2 linked regions of the Homo sapiens genome follow. The protein of the gene in region 1 interacts with the protein of each later gene in a biochemical or structural test. Each region holds a gene or a part of one and is shown on either strand. Other genes may lie near its edges.

The links. Proteins that work in one complex are often made in the same cells at the same time.
Region 2: the proteins of RHOA (region 1) and DAAM1 form a complex in vitro, tested with the Homo sapiens proteins (one study listed by IntAct).

What each region holds. Positions count from the first base shown.
Region 1 is NC_000003.12:49,401,847-49,405,498, reverse strand, and holds part of RHOA (transforming protein RhoA isoform 1 precursor), read left to right. Parts: intron 1-3,652. UniProt on the Homo sapiens protein: Small GTPase which cycles between an active GTP-bound and an inactive GDP-bound state.
Region 2 is NC_000014.9:59,191,661-59,195,312, forward strand, and holds part of DAAM1 (disheveled-associated activator of morphogenesis 1), read left to right. Parts: intron 1-3,652. UniProt on the Homo sapiens protein: Binds to disheveled (Dvl) and Rho, and mediates Wnt-induced Dvl-Rho complex formation. May play a role as a scaffolding protein to recruit Rho-GDP and Rho-GEF, thereby enhancing Rho-GTP formation. Can direct nucleation and elongation of new actin filaments.

The sequences.
Region 1 (3,652 bases):
AGAAGCACTTACCTCAAGTGCCAGACATGTAGCCCTTCAACTAACTTATTTTATTTATTTATTTTTTGAGATGGAGTTTTGCTCTTGTTGCCCAGGCTGGAGTGCAATGGCGTGATCCCAGCTCACTGCAACCTCCACCTCCTGGATTCAAGTGATTCTCCTGCCTCAGCCTCCCCATTAGTTGGGGTTTACAGGCATGTCACCATGCCCAGCTAATTTTTTTTTTTTTTTTTTTTTTTTTGAGACACAGTCTCGCTCTGTCACCCAGGCTGGAGTGCAGTGGCGCGATCTCGGCTCACTGCAACCTCCGCCCTCCGAGTTCAAGCAGTTCTCCTTCCTCAGCCTCCTGAGTAGCTGAGACTACAGGTGCCCGCCACCACGCCCGGCTAGGTGTTTTTTTTTTTTGTATTTTTAGTAGAGACAGGGTTTTACCGTGTTAGCCAGGATGGTCCCGATCTCCTGACCTCAGGTGATCTGCCTGCCTCCGCCTCCCAAAGTGTTGGGATTATAGGTGTGAGCCACCGCGCCTGGCCTACTTTTTTTATTATTTTTTTTTTTGGAGACAAGAGTCTCGCTCTGTCGCCCAGGCTGGAGTGCAGTGGCGTGATCTCGGCTCACTGCAAACTCTGCCTCCCGGGTTCATGCGGTTCTCCTGCCTTAGCCTCCCAGGTAAACTGGGACTACAGGTGCATGCTGCCACGCCTGGCTAATTTTTTTTTTTTTTTGTATTTTAGTAGAGACGGGGTTTAACCATGTTGCCCAGGCTGGTCTCCATCTCCTGAGCTCAGGCAATCTGCCTGCCTTGGCCTCCCAAAGTGCTAGGATTACAGCCGTGAGCCACCGTGCCTGGCCTTCTGGCCTTTTTTTTTTTTTTTTTTTTTTTTTTTGAGACGGAGTCTTGCTCTGTTGTCTAAGCTGGAGTGTAGTGGCACAATCTCGGCTCACTGCAATCTCTGCCTACCAGGGTGCAAGCGATTCTCCTGCCTCAGCCTCCCAAGTAGCTGGGACTACAGGTGCGTGCCACCATGCCCGGCTAATTTTGTGTGTGTGTGTGTGTGTGTGTGTTTTACTAGAGACGGGGTTTTACTTTGTTGGCCAGGCTGGTCTTGAACTCCTGACCTTGTGATCCACCTGCCTTGGCTTCCCAAAGTACTGGGATTACGGGTGTGAGCCACTGCGCCTGGCTTTTTTTTGGAGAGATAAGGTCTTGTTTTGTCATCTAGGCTGGAGTGCAGTGGCACAGTCATAGCTCATGGTGGCCTCCAACTTTTGGTGTCAAGGTATCCTTACGCCTCGTCCTCCCTAGTAGCTGGGACTACAGGTGTATGTGCCACTGCGCCCAGCTAATATTTTTACATTTTGTAGAGATGGAGTCTTGCTGTCTTGCCCAGGTTGGGTCTCAGACTCCTGGGCTCAAACAGTCCTCCCACCTCAGACTCCCAAAGTGCTGCAAGTACGGGCATGAGCCACTGAGTCCAGCTATCTTCAACTTTCACTATTCAGGTTACAGTTTGTAGTACCTTTTTTCGGGGGTGGTGGGAGGGTAGTGGGAGTAGCACCCTAAGATTTCTTGGAATAAAACAGGGCTTACTACTTGGTTCCTGGTACTTAAGAACAGTGGTTCCTAGACTCCACTGTTCCCAAACTTGGAATCCAGTTCCCCAAATTGGAATCACCTGAGGTTTAATTACCTTCATGGAGGTTTAATTTGCATACAATAAAATGCACATACTTTAAATGATAGTTTGATAATTTTTTTGTTCTTATTTTTTTTAGACATAGGGCCTTGTTCTGTCACCCAGCTGAAGTGCAGTGTCGGAATCATGGCTTACTACATCCTCGACCTCCTAGGCCCAAGAATTCTCTGCTTTAGCCTCCCGAGTAGCTGGGACTGCAGGTGTGCACCACCACGCCTGGCTACATTTTTATTTTGTAATTTTTTTTTTTGTAGAGAGAGGGGTCTCACTATGTGCTCAGACTGGTCTTGAACTCCTGGCCTTAAGTGATTCTCTCGTCTCAACCTCACAAAGCCCTGGGATTATAGGCATGAGCCACCACAAACCGCCAGTTTGATAAATTTTGATGAATGTGTATACCCAAGTAATTGCCACTCAGTCGAGTTAAAGAGCATTTCCTCAAGGCTTTAAATTTTTATTTTTATTTTTGAGACGGAGTCTTATTCTGTCATCTAGGAGTGCAGTGCCGCAATCTTGGCTCACTGCAGCCTCTGCCTCCCGGGTTCAAGTGATTCCCCTGCCTCAGCCTCCTGAGTAGCTGGGACTACAGGTGCGTGCCACCACACCCAGCTAACTTTTTGTATTTTTAGTAGAGATGGGGTTTCACTCTGTTAGCCAGGATGGTCTCGATCTGATCTTGTGATCCGCCTGCCTCTGCTTCCCAAAGTGTTGGGATTACAGGCGTGAGCCACCGCGCTCGGCGGGTTTCTTTTTTTTTTTTTTTATGAGATGGAATCTCGCTCTGTTGCCCAGGCTGCAGTGCAGTGGCACGATCTCAACTCACTGCAACCTCCGCCTCTCGGGTTCAAGCGATTCTTCTGCTTCAGCCTCCCGAGTAGCTGGAACTACAGGCACCCGCCACCACGCCCGGCTAATTTTTTGTGTTTTTAGTGGATACGGGGTTTCGCCATGTTGGCCAGGCTGGTCTCAAAGGCCTGACCTTGTGATCCTCCTGCCTCGGTCTCCCAAAGTGCTGGAATTACAGGTGTGAGCCACTGCTCCTGGCCTAAAGTTTTTTAGACTAGTTTTTTTGTTCATTCGTTTTATTTGCTTGGCTTCCTAGAATATGACAAGTTTTGGTTTGTTTTTGAGACAGAGTCTTGATCTGTTTCCCAGGCTGGAGTGCAGTGGTGCTATCGTGGCTCACTGCAGCCTCTAACTCTTGTGCCCAAGTAATACTCCTGCCTCAGCCTCATGAGCATCTGGGACTACAGGCAAGCACCACCATACCTAGTTAATTAATTTAATTTTTATAGAGATGACGTTTTGCCATGTTGTCCAGGCTGGTCTCTAACTCCTGAGCTCTGGCCTCGCAAAGTGGTGGGATTATAGGTGTGAACCACTGCACCCGGCCTAGTTTTTTATTTTAAGAAATATATATACTTGGTAAAAGTAAACTCCTGCAATAAGGTTTACAATAAGCATATATAAATTCTTAGCCAGCTCACTGGGAGGTACCTAATGGTTCATTTTTCTTTGTCAGTTTTACTAGATACGCATTGTCTTAGAGGCAATGTAAGTTTGGAATTAGGCCAAACAAAGTCAAATCCTGATTCTGTGCATCCATTGAAGGTTAACCTTATAATATTTACATTTTGAGATAAATGATTTCATGCTCTTATTTAGGAAACTTGACGGTATGTTACCTCAGGGATTGTTCCTTGCCTGTCTTTCCCCAAAGAACTTGAGTTTGAAGTGATTTTCACTTGGCAGTAAATTGAAGGTTTTCTTCATTGCTTACCACCATGTGCCTTATTCCTGCTGCTCTTGATCTCCAAGTGCCCTTACTGCTACAGAAAGGAAAGCTCTTGAACTAAGAGCTTGGCAGCCACTTGATCAGGATGGCCAAATAATGGCAGTACAGGTTGAGCATCTGAAATGCTTCAAGATGGGCGCTGGCATGACATTCAAAGGAA
Region 2 (3,652 bases), on another chromosome or scaffold:
TGTTTCTTTGTAGTTACAATTTCTTATTACCCCTGAACCAGGCATTTCTAGATTTCTCTCAGTTGCACTATCCTTGGCCCAGATAATCTTCCCAGGAGGTGTGTGACACGTGAATAGGGAGAGACACCAAGAGAAAGATACCCAGAAGCCTTTGCCAGGCCACCAGTGTCTCCCAGAAGAGCTGGGAGACAATAGTCCTCTCACCTGAGGCAGAGCCGTTCCGTAAACAGGATCAGTTGTTTCAGGCTGGTTGATGTGAAAGAAATGTGAAAGAACATTTGCCCAATATTTGTAACATGTTACCATCCAGTAGTCTGATTCTGTGGGTTTTCAGGAGCATAAATTAGTAAATTAGTGAGGAGGTGTGATAATGAAGAGGGTGTGGTGGGTCACATCCTTGGGTGGTGCTTACAGGAGCTCCATGAATAGGTGCTAAGGAATTTGAATCCTGGCTTTCTTGTTTTGTGGACATGTTCTGCTTGTTAAGGGGTGTGTGTGTGTGTGTGTGTGTGTGTGTGTGTGTGTGTGTGTGTGGTTTTGAGCTACTTTGTTTAAAAGGCTGCTTTTAGTGTTGGCACTATGGTCCTTAAAACAAATAAGGTGTTTACAAGCAAAAGTTCTGATTGAAAGTGTTTCATTTTGTAAATATTTGGGAGATGGCATAAAGAGAAACTTGAGGTCTTGTGTGAAAACACTTTAAAGTTGCAGCTGTTGGACCAGAGGAAACATGCTTTTCCAACAAAGCTTGGTATCCTTGAGTGCCCTAGGTGTTTGGTTCAGGAAATAATCACAGAGCTTGTAACTGCTGTGGGGCCCTCCCTGGCTTCAAGCCGTGCTCTGGTATTTCCAGTGTTAAGTCTATCCTTATATTGCCGGAAACAAAGCAAGGTGTCCAACTTGGGTTAGCAAACTTGTTTTCTCTCTAGAGGGGACACCAGTCAAAATAGAAGTTCTATATTCTGTTGTGATTTTTTCCTCTTTGGATGAGGAATATGGTGACTTATTTTGGTATTACAATTTCTAACTTGGTAATAGAGGTAATATTCTAAGTGAATACCAATCTTAAGTACGCACAGCATCTGTTGTAGTGGTTTCAAGACCTCAAAGTTTAGGCCGGGCGCGGTGGCTCAAGCCTGTAATCCCAGCACTTTGGGAGGCCAAGTCGGGAGGATCATGAGGTCAGGACATCGAGACCATCCTGGCTAACACGGGGAAACCCCGTCTCTACTAAAAATACAAAAAATTAGCCGGGTGTGGTGGCGGGTGCCTGTAGTCCCAGTTACTCAGGAGGCTGAGGCAGGAGAATGTCCTGAACCAGGGAGGCGGAGCTTGCAGTGAACGGAGATTGCGCCACTGAACTCCAGCCTGGACTACAGAGCGAGACTCCGTCTCAAAACAACAACAACAACAACAACAACAAAACCCTCAAAGTTTAGAGGAAATTGATTGCACAGGTACTATTTAAGAAACTGGTACTGAGAGCATTTTCTCTATTTCTGTATGTGGCTTGGAGGTAATGTCTGGTTGACAGATCAGGCTAGGGTGGATGATACCCCTCTTGAAGATGCATTCACTTAGCAAGTGTACTGTCTTTTATGTAGATTATATTATTTAGAGTGGCTGAGGCTGCTGATAGAGACCAGCGTTGAAGTGTGGATCTGAAGTTCACCCCCTTTCTCTGAGCTGTCACCTTGTTTGTAGCCCCACTGAAACAGGGACAGACGAACATGAGATTCAAGTTGATTTTAGTGACCTATATTTCATCCAGCAGATTTTTTTTTTCAGAAATAAAAGGTTACCTTTTAATTTTTTAGTATCCTTTCCACTGTTCTAGGAGCAGGGGGAGAACAGAGCATTTCAGGGAGAGTTTGCATTCATAGTCCACAAGTTTGCATACATAGAACATGTGTCTAAAAATGAACTGAATGTTAAGTCCTAGAAGCACAGCAACAAGTGTGCAGAGCCTTCCCCATCACTCCCAATTAATCTGGGGTTACCAAATACACCCTCAGCTTTGGTGAGCTTGTTTTCCTCATTGATGTTTAAGCGTTCCTGGTTTTTACTCTGTCTGTGACTTTCTGCAGTAATGGCTGTCCACGTCTGGAATGTGCTTCCCTCTGAGTGTCTGGATTATCTTGTGCTTTCATATCTAGCTCAGGTGCCACAGCTTCCACGAAGCCTTCCCTGCCCTTCCTCCTTAAAGCACTTAGCTTGACCACACAACACTTACAGCTAATTTGATACCGATATTGTATGTGAGGTGCCTACCTCATGCCAAGCCCTTTCTAATACTTTCCATGGGCTACGTCATTGACTGCACATAATTATACAAGATAGATACTTTTATTGCCATGTTCTAGATGAGGAAACTGAGGCACAGAGAAGTTAAAGAACTTGCCTAGCTTAGGCCACACAGCCTGTAAGTGGCAGACCAGGTTAGGGACTCAAGCAGTCTAGTTCTTTATACATCCTGATGTTGCCTGGTTTCTGACTTTCCGGCACGTTATTCTTTTCTCTGCAACTCGAGTTGGGGTAATCACAGCTTCCTTTGAGTCTCTTAATTCTCAGACAGTGCTGGGTCAGTAAGTCCTGGATTAATTGAGAGTAAAATGACTTCTTCATGTCACAGGTTCTTACAGCCTGATTTTCTGGAACAGAAAATGTTGTGTGAGATTAAAAATGTTGTTTTTGAGTATTTAAATGATAAAACTTTGGAGCTCTCCTTTGCTGTATGAACGATAGACAAATTATTTGAAAAAGGAAATGCTCTTATATTACAACTCTAAATCTGTTTGGAGCCTGTCCAGCATTAGACCTTATTTGTTAAGTGAGGTAACTTTTCACTGGGTTGAATCCCTCATCTGATAAAAGATCTTCTCACCCTGAACAGGGCCACAGAAGCCTGTGTTGAGAGTTAAGAGGGCCCATAATTTCTCAGCCTCCCTCTTCCCTGTAGTCTTTTAACATACATTGTGAAAGCTCTTTTGAAAAGAAAATAATGAACACTTGAGCAGTAGTCAAACATGTAATCTAATATTGGATAGCCTTAGATATTAAAATAAACTTTTTCCCCCCACCTCAGAAGAGATACTTTTATTTATTTTTACAGTGGAGCAAATTTGGTGCCAAATAAACAATTTCTATTCTTTTAAACCATAGCCACAGTTGTGAATTAAATGGGGAAAACCAGGGAAGCAAGTTCAATTTCCAATGCAGTTGGTGCGATTTCGTGACTTACAATAGATCTTTTCCTTTTGGCTTAAAACTAGATATTGTGCCACTTAGACAATATTTAATGAAGACAATTGACTAAAACACAAGGAAATAATAGGAAAGCTATGCCTTAACGGCATATTGCCAGGAAGGGAAACATGAAAACAAAAGGCTTGTTAGCCATTAGGCTACACAATCATAAAATTTTTTGAACAGACATTGATTTCAGAAGGTTTTTCTTTTTTCTTAATCATTCATCTTGTTATACTTTTTTTTTTTTTTTTTTTTTTGAGACAATCTTGCTCTGTCGCCCAGGCTGGAGTGCAGTGGTGCGATCTCAGCTCACTGCAAGCTCCGCCTCCCAGGTTCACGCCATTCTCCTGCCTCAGCCTCCTGAGTAGCTGGGACTACAGGTGTCCACCACCACGCCCAGCTAATT